2 linked regions of the Homo sapiens genome follow. The protein of the gene in region 1 interacts with the protein of each later gene in a pairwise test. Each region holds a gene or a part of one and is shown in the gene's direction. Other genes may lie near its edges.

What was found.
Region 2: the proteins of NUTM2F (region 1) and PRPF18 interact in a two-hybrid assay, tested with the Homo sapiens proteins (one large-scale study listed by BioGRID).

What each region holds. Positions count from the first base shown.
Region 1 is NC_000009.12:94,324,839-94,330,761, reverse strand, and holds the start of NUTM2F (NUT family member 2F), read left to right. Parts: upstream 1-2,117; 5' UTR 2,118-2,138; coding exon 2,139-2,154; intron 2,155-4,827; coding exon 4,828-5,524; intron 5,525-5,923.
Region 2 is NC_000010.11:13,603,078-13,607,464, forward strand, and holds part of PRPF18 (pre-mRNA-splicing factor 18), read left to right. Parts: intron 1-2,553; coding exon 2,554-2,667; intron 2,668-4,387.

The sequences.
Region 1 (5,923 bases):
TTCCCTTCCCCAACACCCACCCATCAGTGCAAAAGACTGCTGCCCAGCAGGGAGTGACATCTGTGTCTCAGATTTTCTTGCTGTGCTCTGAGTACTCACTCCTCATCTCCTTTGACCAGTTTCCTAACACTCCCCTTGTTCACAACACAGAACATGAGTGCTCTTTCCTGTCATTTTGACGCTGATAAACAGCAATTCTGTGTGAAAATGAGAATGAAGATTTTTTTAAAGACAGGCTACAATAATTCCCATGCTGAGAACCACATGTGATGACACTTGTGATGAAGATGAGGACAGCAACGAGCTGAGAGACTCCAACCAGGATTCACACATGCAAGGGGATGCATGAGAATGGGGATGGGACATTGGTGGTTAGCATCCTTGCTTGTCTCAGAATGGACGTGGGTTGTGGATTTCTAACTCCTGGAGAAACCAGAGTTCTAGGAATTGTAAGCCACTTTATGTTAGGAAAGAAAAAGACGGTGTTCTGCTCTCCTGTCCCTTAAAACTGTGCGTACTGCCACTAAACCTGGAAGCTGAGAACGGTATAATGGCTACTCCTGACTTCCTTTCATCAAATCAGCCTGCTATTGTTTTCTGCAATGGTTGTGGTGCAGAATCTTTTTGTGGTGCAGCCAAGATTCACACTTGAGTCTCCTTACTGCAAGTTCGCACTCTCACAGTGGAGAGTTAACAATAATTGCCTAATATGTTACACTTTTTTGGGAAGAGTTACCAGATAAAGTGCAAGATCCCAGTGAAATGTGAATAGCACAGATAAAGGACAGATTTTTTTTTTTGTAAAAGTGTACTCTAAATGTCATATGGATCATAATTATAGTAAAAACTAATTCACTGTTTATCTTCAATTCAAATTCCACTTGGTATTCTTTATTCATACTTGCTAAATCTGGCCACTATGTTCTTTCATGTATTTTTAATTTTAAAAAACAGTCCAACATCTCATTCTAGCAATTTACCTACAGAAATAAAGAGAGGAACCACATTACTGGGACAAATACAGTCACTGCAAATATCAGAAGAATACTAGAACATATTAATATATTAATTTTTACCCCCAAAAAACTGAAAATATTTTTAGACAGCAAAAATAGCTTCATTATGCTTTTGATTGCATAATATATCTCTGGAAAGATGAAAAAGAATCAGATAACACCTATTTCCTCCAGGAAAGAAAATGTGGTGGCCAGAGAAAAGAGGTGGGAGGAAGGCTGGTCATTGTCTATTCCACTGTGCACAATTTGAATTTGGAACCATGCAAAAGTATTGCTTAGTTAAGTTAAAATCATGTAAAAGATACAAAATAAACATTTAACACCAGCACAATATGCTGGGAAACAAAATGAAAGGATTTCTGGTCTCGGTGCTGTAGGTCACATAGCCTCTCTTTCCTGGACTGAGTCTTCCTAAGAAAGGGGACGGGAAGTAAGGCTGGCCTACTGGTGTGGACAGATTCCAGCAACATACATGACCTGGGGGCACAAGGACTGCTTCCTAAACAATGATGAGCACACAGCCACCTAATAGCCTGGATCAGCTGAGGCCATTCTGATTTCAAACACTCAGTCCCCTTGCCTTCCTAAGAACCCCTGTGTTTCTCAGACTGAAAACGTGTTCTGAATTTTGTTAAGTAAGTGTGGCCCCTGTTGAAATTCATCAAGAGTGGGAAAGAGCCAAAGTGGGAAGGAGCATGGGTTGATTGGCACAAAAGTAGGTCTGTTGATAAAGAATGGAAGTAAAGGGGACATCAGGTAGAAGCTTTTGCTGTGAGTCAGAAGGACAATTTAAAAGTTGCCTAAAGAGGCGCACACTGTCTGTGTTGCTGCCATCCAGTTGGATGGCAACCAACTGAACCAAGGGAACCTCAGGTTCTTGCCTACTGGCCAGAGCCCTTCACAGAATGTCCCCCACCCCCGCCAAGCCCGGCTGCCCACTGCCCCTCCCCCTCTGCAGAATGTCTGGGGTCCTGTGTTCCAAACCTGTTTATATGCAAATTATCCCTGCTCCACTTGGACTCAGGAGGATCTGCTGAGTCAGGTCACTCTCTGGGTCCTGCCCTTGACTTTTTTCATTGCGGAAGCTGCCAGACAGTGGTGGTCAGTGCCCAGCCTGAGGGGATGGCTTCAAATGGAGGTGAGCCTGTAGGGATGGGGCATTATCCGAGTCTGCCTTGCCTCAACTCCTTGGGAATTCAAATTTGAACTGTCCCTGGGGACAGCTTATAGGGCTGATGTTGAGGGAGGGAGCACTGGATGTCCCCAGGGACATCACACCTGGGGATGGCCATGGCACCCTGAGTCTGTGGTTAGGGAGGAGGGCTCCTTAGAGGCGGACCAAGATGCCTGGGGGAATACACCGTGTAGTGGAAAGGATGGAGAGGATGGGTTGATCCTTTCTAGAGGGGGACAGGTCACGTCATTGTGTTTGTAGGGAGTGGTGGGATCGTGTTGTGCTGGTGGCCCAGGGAGAATGACGGGCAAGCCTGAGCCCTGTGCCGTGTCTTCAGGCACCTGGAAGGTGCCCTTCCATAGTGTTTAGAGGGATTTGGACTGGAGTTTTCTAGTTCTTAGAGAGGAGTGGGGAGAAGTGGTCTCAGCCAGAAAACTGTTGGGTGGGTTGGCTGTGACAGAGCATGTAGTGACAGCCTCTGGGTGGGCAAGGCTGGGGGCCACTGCAACTGCCACAGCCCAGAGCCTCTCAGCTTCCTCCCCAGAGATGGCTTCTCCGTCAGTTCAGGTAGCTGTTGGCTTTGATTTAACAGGGGTGGGGGCAGAATGGGGAAGTTCAGGCAACACAGGGCCTGGGTTTCCTGAGTTGTTCTGAATTGTTTGCCCTTTGGTGGAAGCTCAGGTCTTCAGACCCACTTCCTCTCGTCAGCTAGCTCATGGCCCGTCCTCTGTACTTTGTGTTACTGTGGAGGTGAAGAATTTGCTCCTGTTCCATTTATACTACCTCATGAACGGGCGACAGGTGTGGATTCTTGCTGGTTCTCAGTGGAAGGCTCTGAAAAGGCTGGTTTCCTTTTCAGTAGAGGAAGGAGAGTAGCGCACAAATAGGAAGACAGTCCTATTATTATTATTATTCAAACTAGGATGTGTGTCCTGACTGATGAGGTGCATGTGCTGTATCCCTTATTCCCCTTGGCTAGAGACTGCATGAGGTCCTAGTGAACAGGGATGAGTTCCAGACAACTCTGCCTCACCTGGCCTGTGGCCCAAGAACCCCTGGTTCTTCGTTGGTCCCTATGTTCAGTTACTGGGAGCTCAAAGGAGAAGGACCAGAGATGGGCTCCCTGTCCCACTATTTAGTGTAACATGACTAGCAGCTGTGAAAATCCCTGGCCGGGCGCGGTGGCTCACGCCTGTAATCCCAGCACTTTGGGAGACCAAGGCATGTGGATCACGAGGTCAGGAGTTCAAGACCAGCCTGACCAATATGGTGAAACCCCGTCTCTACTAAAAATACAAAAATTGGCTGGGCATGGTGGCGGGCGCCTGTAATCCCAGCTACTCAGGAGGCTGAGGCAGGAGAAGTGCTTGAACCTGGGAGGCAGAGGTTGCAGTGAGCTGAGATCGCACCACTGCACTCCAGCCTGGGTGACAGAGCGAGACTCCGTCTCAAAAAAAAAAAAAAAGAAAAAAAAGAAAATCCCTAGACACCTCCCCTGATAGCCCTGCTGCTCACCATTTGCTGGCTGTGTTCTAGTCATGTGCAGCTGTTGCTGGCTACACAATGACAATATCTCAGGGGACTCCACCACTGCTTCTCAGATCTGCTCCCTGGGAACTGAGCTTCCTGAGTGGCAGCTGGGACCACTGAGCACTGAGGAATGGGTGGCCTGAATCTGACCCCTATTTAACACTTGTGTGGGTGGTGCCAGGACAATCACTTGCATGCTGGGCGTGATGTGTTATGGGTTATCTTCAGGGTTCCTAGGGCACTGGCTTGGGTGAGTTTCCATCCAGTGGTTTTCTTTTTTTTTTTTTTTTTTTTTTTTGAGACGGAGTCTCGCTCTGTCACCCGGGCTGGAATGAAGTGGCACGATCTCGGCTCACTGCAGCCTCTGCCTCCTCGGTTCAAGCAATTCTCCTGTCTCAGCCTCCTGAGTAGCTGGGATTACAGGCACGCACCATCAGCTAATTTTTGTATTTTAGTAGAGACGGGGTTTCACCACGTTGGCCAGACTGGTCTTCAACTCCTGACCTCAGGTGATCCACCCGCCTGGGCCTCCCAAAGCGCTGGGATGACAGGCATGAACCAGCACGCCCGGCCTATCCAGTGGTTTTCTTTTGTTGTGTTGAGCTAGGAAAGAAAGGGGTTTACAAGAGCTTCAGGGAAAGGAAGACTGAAGAGGAGATGGGGCCATAATATTCGGAAACTTCTGGTTTCCTGTCGGCCTTCTGAATGCCGAGCACTGCCCTGGGGTAGGCCCCTCACCTGCTGCTGAGCACACTGAGAGCCACCAAGCCACCGAGAGACTCATCCCTGACCCATGGCTTGGGAGATGCCTGTGAGGCTGGTGCAGTCTGCCAGGGACACCCGAGGGAGACCCTCAGAGACAGCAAAGGCTTGGCTGTTTCTTCTTGGCAGACAAGGGTCAGGGAGTCTTGGTGACTGGCGCCAGGCTCTCTAGTGGAGCGACTCTGCCGTGGAGGAACAGAGCATCTGATGCACACTCAGGGACACTTGCAAGCTGCAGAGTTTCCCTGTCACATGCCCTCAGCTGTTGGGACTCCCCTGATTCCCCAGTGACTAGTGTGGACCTGGAGACGCCAGCTCATTCACCTCTTTCCTTTGTCTCCACAGCATACCCAGTGCTGGGACCCGGCGTGACCGTGAACCCTGGCACCTCCCTGTCTGTGTTCACGGCTCTGCCCTTTGCCACACCCGCTCCCGGCCCAGCACACAGGCCGCCCCTCGTGACTGCAGTGGTTCCTCCAGCCGGCCCTCTGGTGCTCTCTGCCTTCCCCAGCACCCCTCTAGTGGCAGGACAGGATGGCCGCGGCCCGAGTGGGGCCGGGGCTTCCAACGTCTTTGTCCAGATGAGGACAGAAGTGGGGCCTGTGAAGCCCCCTCAGGCACAGACCTTGATCCTAACTCAGGCCCCCCTCGTCTGGCAGGCTCCAGGCACCCTCTGTGGAGGTGTCATGTGTCCACCTCCCCTACTCCTGGCAGCTGCTCCTGGGGTGCCCGTTACCTCTGCCCAGGTGGTTGGGGGCACCCAGGCCTGTGAGGGAGGCTGGTCCCATGGCCTTCCTCTTCCACCACCACCACCGGCTGCCCAGGTGGCCCCCATCGTGTCCCCAGGGAACGCTAGGCCATGGCCACAAGGGGCTCATGGAGAGGGCAGCCTGGCTCCCTCCCAGGCCAAGGCCCGGCCGGACGACTCCTGTAAACCCAAGAGTGTCTATGAGAACTTCCGACTCTGGCAGCACTACAAGCCCCTGGCCCGGAGGCACCTTCCCCAGAGTCCTGACACTGAAGCGCTTTCCTGCTTCCTCATGTGAGTGTCCTCGGGGCGCCGGAGCTTGTCCTGCAGCTCACTCATAAAGAGGCTGCTGGATGGACAGGAGGTCACACTGTTCAGGGGAGCTTGCAGGGCGGTTGTGAGGGTGATGGGTTGTGCTATGGGAAGGTACGTTTTCAGCAACATTAATCTGGCTGCGGCTCAGGACAGACTGTCAGGGGCCTCACGTCAACTGCCTGTCACTGTCCCGTGAGTCCAGCCAATCCTTAATTTTTTTTTTTTTTTTGAGATGGACTTTCACTCTTGTTGCCCAGGCTGGAGTGCAATGGCGCGATCTCAGCTCATCACAACCTCCGCCTCCCGGGTTCAAGTGATTCTGCTGCCTCAGCTTCCTGAGTAGTTGGGATTACAGGCATGTGCCACCATGCCTGGCCA
Region 2 (4,387 bases), on another chromosome or scaffold:
CGACGTAGTTTTAAGAAGTTGTTCTTTTTGTGAGATCCATCATTAGTAAACCATTGTTACTGATTAATAGTGGTACATCAGTTAAGTAGTAGACATGATATGGGGAAGAAGTTCCTGCCTTTGCTCAGCGAGCGTCTATTGAAATAGTAAAAGAGGACTCAGAGGCTTAAGTTCTTTCACTGATGTCCCTTTAGTCTCTGTGTCATTTTTTGGGGGAGGTGGTGGTGGTGGTGGTGGTGGTGGTATATTTCAGCTTCTTTATTTAAAAAATTAGAATAATAGAATTCTTGCACTAAAAGAAATTTCGAAGTCAGGTAGTTTATTACCTTGCCTTTAGACAGAACCACTGTTATATAATTCCAGGTAGATGAGAGTTAGCTATTTAAACTGATAACCAGAAAAATATTATGCACTCCTCACAACTTGGCCTAAGTTATAGCACCCAATCTTAAGCAGTGTTTTACAGTAATAACTAGCTCACATTCCCTTTCTTTTTTCTGTCGAGGTTGTTTTTGTCTTTGACTGACTGACTTAGGGTCATCTTTCATCTTTGAGTCCTCAGTAGTCTCTTCCTGTTCGACCTCTGTAGTTGTGGATAGGACTGAATGTAAGTCATAGAAATAAAGCGTCTAGATCAAAGGCTTATGTATTCTGTACTTCTCGCAAGTTGACATGTTTGTAGTATTATTATTTAGTTCTACATTACCACATGTTTATGACGGACATTGCATAAAAGGAAATTTTCAGGGGAATGGTGACTGACTCTAGAAACCATCATATGAAGATGAGGTGAAGGAATTTAGAATAGTGAGGCTGGAGAGAAGAATTACTAGAGATATCTTTAAAAATCCAATGAAAGTAGCTCTGATTTTGGAAAATCAGAATATTCTCTGTAGTTTCATAAAGTGGAACTGGGATAAATGGGTAGAAGTTTGGGGGAAGTAGATTTCAGTTTTGAGAAGCAAAACATCTCTGTCTAAACAATGGGATGGGATGTTTCACGAAGAAATGTGATTCCTGCCATTTGTCAGCCAGGGATCTGACAAGGGTGTTTGTGAGGTCATTTCTGCATTGATTGGAGATAGCACTAGATGACCTCTTAAATTTCTGTTTTAATCTCAAACTTCTGTTAATCCACTGGGAGCCCTCTCAATGGATTTTAGGTGTGATGCTATTTATGCTCCCAGGTAAAGCTCTTGGTGTTTCTCATTATTGCTTTATTTAAAAAATTTGGACTAGTATTTATTACGTTTTCTGTTTCTTTCTTCCTTTTTAAAATGACATACATAGCATGTATATAAAGTGTATGAACCATGTTAGGGCAATATATGTTTGTTACACATATATGAATAATTATAAAATAAATATTCATGTAACCATCACCCAAGTTTGGAAATAGATTTTCAGCATCTTAAAAGCTCTGCATATGCAGATTATAACTCCCTGTTTTCTGAGGGAGAAGTTTTTGGTTTCATGGTGGTATTACAATGCAGACTGTCCATTATGGTAATTATCAGCTGGCTTCAGATTTGATTTTCCTTCTCTCTATAAATGCTGTCATTCCCTCCCATCTTAGTGTTTTTCCTGTGTGTCCTGCCACACAGATTGGTCCTATCGAAGCAGTGAGCTAAACGACCTAAACTTTATGGTTACTTAAGGTGTGATGGTAACACAGTATATCTGTTTATGGAAAATTAAAAGAATAAACAGATTACTTTTTTCATCTACATTTCAAAACAAGTGTTTGATCACCAAAAATATGCTGACATAAGGGATTACTATTGTCTTTCCATTGTTTTTAAAAGAAGACTAAGAACAGTTATAATTATGTAAAATGAGGGCCACAGACATGCCCCTTTTCTTACAAAAAAGAATTTTTTAAAAATCTCACAGTAAAAGAGGTGGTTTATATTAGGGTCTTTCTTTAGACTTGAATTGTAGAGTCATAGGTCAGACCACTTTCTAGGAGCTGTTCAGTGATAAAATTAATAACAGTGACTTTTGAGTCAAAATAGATTTTTAAAGTACTTGATTTTCTCTTTGATTTGGAAACATCTTTGTTTAGCTTAATTGAAATGATCTAAAATATTTGAAGGATTTTATACTTTACACAGAGGCATGTATTTGGATAATTAGCTTTTATTAAACCCAGGCTTGGCTTTTAAGGTACAATATACAAATTGTTTTTGAGATGTTTAGTTTTTTCCTCTCTCAAAAGTTTAATAGCTGGGCACATTAGCTCACGCCTGTAATCCCAGCACTTTGGGAGCCCGAGGCAGGCGGATCACAAGGGCAGGAGACTGAGACCATCCTGGCCAACATGGTGAAACCCCATCTCTACTAAAAATACAAAAGTTAGCTGGGTGTGGTGGCGGGCGCCTGTAGTCCCAGCTACTCGGGAGGCTGAGGCAGGAGAATCGCTTGAACCTGGGAGGCGGAGCTTGCAGTGAGCCGAGATCGCACCACTGCACTCCAGCCTGGGCAACAGAGTGAGACTGTCTCAAAAAAAAAAAAAAAAAAAAAAATTTACTGGGTATCTGTTTCACTTTGTAGGTCATCAGAAGATTGAGAGAAAGAGGAGAACCAATCAGACTATTTGGAGAGACTGATTATGATGCTTTTCAACGTTTAAGGAAAATAGAGATCCTCACACCAGAAGTTAACAAGGTAAGAGGACAGAACAAAGCTAGAAAAATACCACTGTACTGCATTCACTAGAATAGAGTTTGACTAATTGCATTATTGTAGGCAACAATGGAAAAGTAAAGTGAGCAGATTATTGCTGCTGAATGGAAGTTTTCATTAATTTTTTGAAAAGCTCATATCTTAAGTATAACATTTAATGCATTTTGACAAATACATACAAGCATATAACCATTGCCCTTATAAAGAAATAGAACATTTTCGTCACCAAAGAAATTTCCCTGAGAGCATCAGGAAGAATAGCGAATGGATGCTGGGCTCAATAGCTGGGTGATGGGATGATCTGTGAAGTAAACCACCACGACACACGTTTCCCTATGTAACAAACCTGTCATCCTGCAGCTGTATCCCTGAACTTAAAAGTTGAAAAAAAAGAGAAAAAGGAAATTTCCCCAGTACCCCTTCTCAGCCTATCCTCATATTTCTCCTCATCCCTTCCTGGGCAGCCACCATTTGAATTTTGTCATCATGGATTAATTTTGCTTGTTCTTGTATTTCATACAGATGGACTCATAGATTGTGTGTCTGGCTTCTTTCGCTCAGCATATCAGTTTTTAGGTTCATCCATGTTATTGCAGATACCACTGGTTTCCTTTTCATTTTCCAGTGATACTCAGTTGTATGAATATATCAAAATTTGTTTCCAGCTTTGGGCTATTAGGAATAAAACTGCTGGCTGGGCGTGGTGGCACAAGCCTGTAATCCCAGCACTTTGGGAGGCTGAGGCAGGTGGATCACAAGGTGAAGAGATCGAGACCATCCTGGCCAACATGGTGAAACCCCGTCTCTACTAAAAATACAAAAATTAGCTGGGCGTAGTGGCGTGTGCCTGTATTCCCAGCTACTTGGGAGGCTGAGGCAAGAGAATCACTTGAATCCGGGAGGTGGAGGTTGCAGTGAGCTGAGATTGTGCCACTGCACTCCAGCCTGGCGACAGAGTGAGACTCCTTCTCAAAAAAAAAAAAAAAAAAAAAAAAACAGGGATAAAACTGCTATGACCATTCTTATGCAGATCTTTTTTTGGAACTATGTTATTTTTCTTGGGTAAATAAATAGGTCTCTTGGGGAGATACCTAGAAGTAGAATTGCTGGATAATAAGAGTAGATGTATGCTTAACTTCATAAGAAATGCCAGTCATTTCCAAACCCCAGCATGTGGTATTGTTAGTCTTTTTAATTTTAACCATTCTCTTTTGTGTCTGGTAGTAGCTCTTTGCGGCTTTAATCACATTACCTGATGACTAAAGATGAGGAGCATCTTTTCATAAAGTTGTGTTCATTTGTGTAGTGTCTGTTAAAGTCTTTCTTTCCTTATTTATTTATTTTTTTGACACAGAGTCTCACTCCGTCACCTACGCTGGAATGCGGTGGCATAATCATGGCTCATGGCAGCTGCAACCTCCTGGGCTTAAGCAGTCCTCCCACCTCAGCCTCTCAAGTAGCTGGGATTACAGGCGCTTTTTGTTCATTTTAAAAATAAACTTGTCTTTTTGTAAATGGATTATAGGAATTCTTTGTATATTCTGGATAGAAGTTCTTTGTCAGATATACGAATATTTTTTGTGACTATTTTCTTGTAGTTTAGGGCTTACCTGTTCTCTTAATTGAATCTTTTGCTGAACAGAAGTTTGTGTGTGTGTACACACACGCTTTTTGAGACAGGGTCTCACTCTCACCCAGGCTG